2 linked regions of the Homo sapiens genome follow. The protein of the gene in region 1 purifies or fractionates together with the protein of each later gene. This does not show direct contact. Each region holds a gene or a part of one and is shown in the gene's direction. Other genes may lie near its edges.

The links.
Region 2: the proteins of ASTL (region 1) and AMD1 purify together in Homo sapiens (affinity purification with mass spectrometry, with the first as the bait; one large-scale study listed by BioGRID). This does not show direct contact.

The regions. Positions count from the first base shown.
Region 1 is NC_000002.12:96,131,882-96,135,693, reverse strand, and holds part of ASTL (astacin-like metalloendopeptidase precursor), read left to right. Parts: intron 1-281; coding exon 282-343; intron 344-1,635; coding exon 1,636-1,729; intron 1,730-2,151; coding exon 2,152-2,269; intron 2,270-2,972; coding exon 2,973-3,154; intron 3,155-3,812.
Region 2 is NC_000006.12:110,884,584-110,888,395, forward strand, and holds part of AMD1 (S-adenosylmethionine decarboxylase proenzyme), read left to right. Parts: intron 1-2,921; coding exon 2,922-3,008; intron 3,009-3,752; exon of another isoform or gene 3,753-3,812.

The DNA.
Region 1 (3,812 bases):
CCTCAGTCTCCTTTGTCTTTGTCCTCCAGCCCCCTCACACCTGCAGACAGTCCGCACAGGGTGGCTGACATTCTCAAACATCAACTAATGACTTAACTAAACACCCAGGCTCGGAGAGCCGATGACCTATACTTTTATCAGGCTATTTAAGAACTTATAAAAGTAACAATCCACTAGGAAAGACACAAGAATAGACTTAAGTAAGTAGGGATTTGCTTGGCCTGTCCCACGAGTCAGTGTTCTGGGGGACATGGGCCAACACGTCCTTCTTCCTTTCCCAGGGCTCATCCTGGAAGAAACCCCAGAGAGCAGCTTCCTCATCGAGGGGGACATCATCCGGCCGGTGAGTGCACACACTGACGTGTGTGGGTGCGGATAAGCCCACAGTTGGCGACAGGTCCTCTGAGCCCACCCTGGATGCCATGGGGCCTGATGTGTGAGGGACATACATAGCTTGGTAGATGCCTCTTTTTGTCAAGGTCAGAGCGACTGTTCTGTTAGGAAATAGGAATAAGCCAGCCTGAATGCTAAGGAAGGCTGGTATCTGAAGTGCTGGCACAGTCAGCCTGAGAGGGCTTCCTGAAGGAGGAGGTTTGAACACTTGACCCAGCTTGGTACCCTGCCCAGGGGAGGTGCTCAGCACTCGGGAGGTGCTCAGATAAAGGAAGAGATGAGCAAGGGTTGGCAGAGTGGCCAGTGGCAGATAAAGGGCCTGGTGGCAGTGGCGACCTAGGGATGGTGGAACAAGGAGTGATGTTGAGCCTGACCATCTTGGCTGTGGTCGAGGGGCCGCATCTGAAGGGAGAAGGTTGCTGGGGATTGGGGCGCCTTGCTAACAGAAAAGGGAACACTGTGCCCAGGATGGCAGCCATGTGTTTCAGGCAACTGCGAATGGCAGAAGGCTCCTGAATAGGACAGTGACCCAGGGGAAGGCAAGACTGTCCTGTTGGAGGCTGCCACTGACGGCACAGCCTCTGGCTGGGCAGGAGAGCCAGAGGCTGGCCCAAGGCTGCCCAGGAACTCCGGGGGCAGGGCAGACCCTCTGGGTTATGCAGTGAGTGCTCGGGCAGGTGGTGTGCGACCACCCGGAGCAGAATCAAATGCCTCCAGCCGATGGCACAGGCACGCTGGGGTGCTGTGGAGCCTGGGCACCGAAGGGCTCTGGTTGCTGGAGAGCAGAAGTAAGCAGCCGAGGCCAGGGTGCTGCCTCACTTTCACTCCATATGGCTCTGTTCCCATGATCGTCCCATGTTCAGGGAAGCCTGGTGGCTGTTCCCCTCTGGAAGGGGCACTGTCAACATGCTGGAGTGGGGCTGCTGGCCCAAGCCCTTCTGATTCAGGGCACCCTGGGGTGCTGGGCCTCCTAGCCAACATCCTCAGGGACTAATCTCTTGTTTGCTTGAGATTGAAATTCTTTCATCATAGGCCAAGGGACTGTCTTGTGCATCAAGGTTCATGTAGCTGGCCCCTTGCCTTCCACAGCTCTGTCCCATCTCTAATGGTCCCCCATTCCCATGCACACAGGTCCTGACTCCCACATCTTTGGGGTTCTGGTGCCCTGGGGTGTGGTACCCTTGGGGCACAAAGCTTGGGTGGCCTCTGTCCCCAGGGGTTGAACTGCTGCTCTCTCCTCAGAGTCCCTTCCGACTGCTGTCAGCAACCAGCAACAAATGGCCCATGGGTGGTAGTGGTGTCGTGGAGGTCCCCTTCCTGCTCTCCAGCAAGTACGGTGAGTGAGCATGGCGCGCTCCCTCCCTGCCTCAGCCCCTTCTTCCTAATGCGGCAGGTGTTCCTCTCTTCCCTTTTCCTCTTACACCATCACATCCCTTCCACCTCCCCACCCGAAGAACCTGTCCACAGATGCCCTTCTGTTGCTGAAGGTCTCCTGAGTAGGGAGGGTTAAAATCTGATGGGAAGGTATGTCGAGTGGGGATCTGGTTCCCCTTGAGACCATGCGGTGCAGAGGACAGTGACCTACCCAAGGCCACACAGCCAGGGTCTGTCTGGGGCCCAGCTTCTTCCTGGCACCACTAAGCTGCCCTTTCTTGATGCTATTTTGGGAGAGTGAGTTCAGAGCTCTGCTCCCAGACCCTCAGGTAGAGCTCAAAGACCACCAGGGCTCTGGGGGCTCAGCCAGGTGGTGTCTTCCAGATGAGCCCAGCCGCCAGGTCATCCTGGAGGCTCTTGCGGAGTTTGAACGTTCCACGTGCATCAGGTTTGTCACCTATCAGGACCAGAGAGACTTCATTTCCATCATCCCCATGTATGGGTAAGTGCCGGGGCCAGGATGCGTATCTCAGCTCGCTTCTGCGTTCAGCCCGGAATTAACTTGGCCATTGTCTAAAATGTATTCCTGGGCCCATCCTCCAGGGCTCAGTCTCCCTGCCCACCCTGAGGGGTCTGCCAAGTGTGAGCTGGACCTCCAGGGCGGAATGTGGGAAAGGGATGGGAACGGTGCTAGACCCTCCATTTACAAAGCCCTCCTCTCCCGGGGGACTCCATGAGGTGGTGAGGAGAGGAGGTTTTGCGGGGCAGACAGTGCGTGAGTCACTGAGTCCTGGCAAGTCCCCTAACTTCTGAGCCTCTTCTGTCCCCTCTGGGGTGCGAGTGGTGGCGATACCTGCTTCCTAGCTTGTCAGGGGCCTGAGGCAATTTGTGTGAAAGCCTTGGCTTAGGGCTGACCAGGAGGGTGTGCTCACTTAGTAAGCTGCTTCTGTCCTCTGTGTTCATATATCAGTTTCTGCAGCCTCCCTGCAGCCCAGGCTGGTGATGGGGGTCCGGTATGGCCATTTCACAGAAGTCCAGGCAGTAAAGGGGCCTGGAGAATGGTGAACCTGAGACTAGAGCCCAGAGTGGGGCCTGCCTGTTGGGAGTTTGTCTATCTTGTGTTGTGTGGGGAGGGAGAGCCCAGGTCTGTATGTCCGGAGGGATCTGGGCTGGCACTTACCCCACTTGCTCTCATCACCCTGCAGGTGCTTCTCGAGTGTGGGGCGCAGTGGAGGGATGCAGGTGGTCTCCCTGGCGCCCACGTGTCTCCAGAAGGGCCGGGGCATTGTCCTTCATGAGCTCATGCATGTGCTGGGCTTCTGGCACGAGCACACGCGGGCCGACCGGGACCGCTATATCCGTGTCAACTGGAACGAGATCCTGCCAGGTGAGCCAGGCCACACGCAGGACAGGCTGGTGCCGGGGAGGGGACAGCACGGCTTGGGCCCAAGTCGCCTGGTCCCCATGGGTGAGGCTATCCATCCTCCCCATCACCTGCCTGCTTCCTGTGGGGAAGGTGGGGGTCTCACTTCTGTCTGGTACCTGGTACCTGGAGGTGGTACTCTGGGTGCTGCTCTGGGCCCCAGGCCTTCCTCTACCCACCTGTAGTTGTGCCTTAGCTAGGGCGCCACCACCTGCTTTGTCTCGCTTCTCATCCCTGACACTGTCCTCTCCCTGGCGATGGGGCAGGCAGTGCCCATGATACCTGCTTGTTGAGTACTCTAGCAGCGGTCTCATGTACCAGATACCACCACCATGGACTGGGGCTGTGTGCCAGCTTGGGGAGCTGAGCCAAAGTGGGACCCCAAGGTAGCAGGCTGCACAAGCCAAGTGCTGGGCCACGGGCTGAGGGCAGCACTGTGGGGCTGGGACATGTGCCAGTGGTGCCAGTGAGCAGGCAGAAGGAACACAGACTGTGGCCATGGGAGAGTGGAGGCTGGAGGCAGGTGGGCTGTGGTTCCTGTGCTGGCAGCGGCTGTGTGGCGCCGGGGATCAGATCCTGGTGATGGTGGGGTCTCTCTCATTGTGGGCTTGATGGTCTGGTT
Region 2 (3,812 bases), on another chromosome or scaffold:
CCACCACTCCCAGCTGCCTTTTTTCTTTTTAAGAGACTGGCTATTGCTATGTTGCCCAGGCTGGTCTTGAACTTCTGGTCTCGTGATCCTTCCTTCTTGGCCTCTGAACCACAGTGCCTGGCCACAACAGCCTTTAAAAAAAGAGAAAACAAAAATAAGAAAGGAAAAGACTGTTACACTGTTTAGTTCAGCCATGGAACGTGTTTAAAAGTCTTAATAGAAATGGTGAATATAACTGAGAAAGGGAGGGTGGGATTTGTTAGTGCGTCCAGTGGGTAAAAAGGAGTATGTGCAAGAATAAGTTATAGTGGGAAGTCAGTAGGTGATGACTTAAGCAGGTAGCATTATTGATGGACCTGAATTAGATAAGCTCTTTAAAAATCTGAAATTGTAATGTTTCTAATACTTAAATCATAGTGGATATTTTTATTTACCTTCATATTCAGGAATGGGAGTCTTAATAGTAGATAATTTTTGCAAGGATTTTGTAAATTTATCTTAGTCAAGTGAAGCAGGATTTCATTCCCACGAGTAGTTTGTTTATTTTTTTGAGATGGAGATTCACTTTTGTCGCCCAGGCTGGAATGCAGTGGTGCGATCTCGGCTCACTGCAATCTCCATCTCCCGCATTCAGTCTCCTGCCTCAGCCTCCAGAGTAGCTGGGATTATAGACGCCCACCACTACGCCCAGCTAATTTTTTGTGTTTTTAGTAGAGATGGGGTTTCACCATGTTGGCCAGGCTGGTCTCAAACTCCTGACCTCAGGTGATCCATGCGCCTCGGCTGCCCAAAGTGGTGGGATTACAGGCATGAGCCATTGTGCCTGGCCAAGTTTTTGTTGTTTTTGTTTTGTTTGTTTGTTTTTGAGACGGAGTCTCCCTCTGTTGCCCAGGCTGGTATGCAGTGGCAAGATCTCAGCTCACTGCAACCTCCACCTTCAGGGTTCAAGTGATTCTTCTGTCTCAGCCTCCCGAGTAGCTGGGATTACAGGCGTGTGCCACCACACAAGCCAGGGGTAATTTCAAGGGTTGTCACAGTATATATCCCACATATGTATTCTTTCCATATATGAACAAATTGTTAGCACCCTTTTTAAAGAACCTTAAAACTTTTTAGTAGCTCTTTTAAAAAAGTTGCTTAGTCATGTTATAGTCTAATACAGGAACTCAGCTCTGTAATCATTAGCAAGCCTTTCACATTAAAGATTTTTGGATGGGTATTGGTACGCAGATGGGTCAGTAACAGTTTCTTGTAGCAAAATGGTGAGACAGGCACAAAATTCTACCAGGCATGTTTGGTGTTGTGTTTGCTTTTTAATACAAACGAATAAAAACATTTTGCTGTTGGATTTCGCTCAAAAGGTCTTATCTGGTTAACAAAAGATTTGCCGGCTGGGCACGGTGGCTCATGCCTGTAATCCCAGCACTTTGGGAGGCCGAGGCAGGCGGATCACCTGAGGTCAGTAGTATGAGACCAGCCTGGCCAACATGGTGAAACCCTGTCGCCACTAAAAATACAAAAATTAGCCAGGTGTGGTGGCACGTGCCTGTAATCCCAGCTGCTTGGGAGGTGGAGGTTGCAGTGAGCAGAGATCATGCCACTGGACTCCAGCCTGGGTGACAGAGCAAGACTCAGTCTCAAAAAAAAAAAAAAAAAGATTTGCCATTTTTATGAGTGTAGAGCAATGGCCTGTCAGATATCATAAGGCTTAAAAATTTTTCTTCTTTTTTTAAAGACCAGGGTATTACTCTATCGCCCAGCCTGGTCTCAAACTCCTGAGCTTAAGCCATCCCAATCCCAAAGTGCTAGGATTACAGGCGATTCTCCTGCCTCAGCCTCAGCCTCCTGAGTAGCTGAGATTATAAGCACCTGCCACCACGCCCGGCTAATTTTTGTATTTTTAGTAGAAACAGGGTTTCACCATGTTGGTCAGGCTGGTCTCAAACTCCTGACCTCAAGTGATCCACCGCCTTGGCCTCCCAAAGTGCTGGGATTACAGGCGTGAACCACCACGCCTGGCCTAAAAAATATTTCTGGCAAACAGCTGGGCATGGTGGCACATGCCTGTGGTTCTAGCTACCTGAGAGACTAAGGCAAGAGAATTGCTTGAGCCTGGGAGGTCAAGGCCGAAGTGAGCTGTGATTGCACCACTGCACTTCAACCTGGGCGACAGAGTGAGACCCTGTCTCAAAAAATAATATCTGTCATGTTAAGCTGTTCCATGGAATTACATTGTCTTTTTATAATGGGCACACTAATGAAAGAATGAACACTTTCCTAATTCTATTCTCAGGCAAATTAAGACTAGTTTCTTCATGTCCATATGACCTTCATTGCTATGGTTGCTTGTACTGCACATTTCCTGTTAAACGGGCTTTCTCATTGCATTTGGAGAGCTGCGTAGTATTCCCAAAATCTTCTAGGTATGCTTGTAATTGGCAGTCATTCCAGTTTTTTGTGAGTGCTATAAGAGTAACATCACTCACTGTGTCCCGACAGACAGGCTTTTAAATTTCTATGCCAATTAGATTGGTAAAATTATGCTCTTCTTTTTTTTTAAGTGTTTCTTAAGGTTAAAAATCTGCACATTTTATAGACAAAGTATCCCATTGAATTTCTGTAATCATTGATTAGTTAATGGTTTACCTTGGTTTATGGACCTTTGAACATTTTTTTGCCTATTTTTCTTTAAGTAATTTGTAAATACATAGTATAATGACCAATTTTTGTTTCATATATAGCATAATATACCTATCATTTATCTGGGTGTGTCAATATAGATTATTTTGAAAGAAACTAAAAGTTGGTGTACAATATTAATTAAAAATGTGGTCTTCATGAGAAAAAGTGTGAGCTTTGTAATTTTTATGAGTAGGTGGGTACTATTGTGGATTAATCGTAACTTTTTTGTTAAATGATAGATCTGAGTGGGACATACTTTTGAAGGATGTGCAATGTTCAATCATAAGTGTGACAAAAACTGACAAGCAGGAAGCTTATGTACTCAGGTAAGTCCTGTAAAACAAGTGTTAGGTAGCTAATTTCAGTCCTAATCATAATGTGAAACAGTTAAGTTCCTCTCAGTTGTAGTTCTGGGGGTTTTTTTGTTTTGTTTTGTTTTTTTGAGACGGAGTTTCAGTCACCCAGGCTGGAGTGCAATGGCGCCATGTCAGCTCACTGCAACCTCCGCCTCCTTGGTTCAAGCAATTCTCCGGCCTAAGCCTCCTGAGGAGCTGGGATTACAGGCACCTTCCATCATGCCCGGCTAATTTTTGTATTTTTAGTAGAGACGGGGTTTCACCATGTTGGCCAGGCTGGTCTTGAACTCCTGACCTCAGGTGATCCATCCACCTCGGCCTCCCAAAGTGCTGGGATTATACACGTGAGCCACCGCGCCCAGCCTTTTTTTTACATTATTCTTAAAAATATGGTATAAAAGGAAACATTTAGTGTAACGTGGATGTTTCTAGGACATAGGTTTTGAAGCCTCACCGGACAGTTCAAGGTGTTTGCCGTCTTTTCCTCCCAATTGGTAAAGAAGGACCTCTTAATTAGAAGTTCAGGCAAAGGGAAAGTTAGCTTCTCTATACAAATACAGTTGTCTAATTGGTATATAAAAGCTCATCACCTTTTTTGTAGTTGCAGAGTTAATTTATTCCATAAATACTTTTAATGCTTATAGTATATATTGTGATGGGCCTTGCTGGGGGATACTGGACTAAACAGCCCCTCCCCCCCTTTTTTTTTCTGAGGCGGAGTCTCAGTCTGTCCAGGCTGGAGTGCATTGGCGCAATCTCCTCTCACTGCAACCT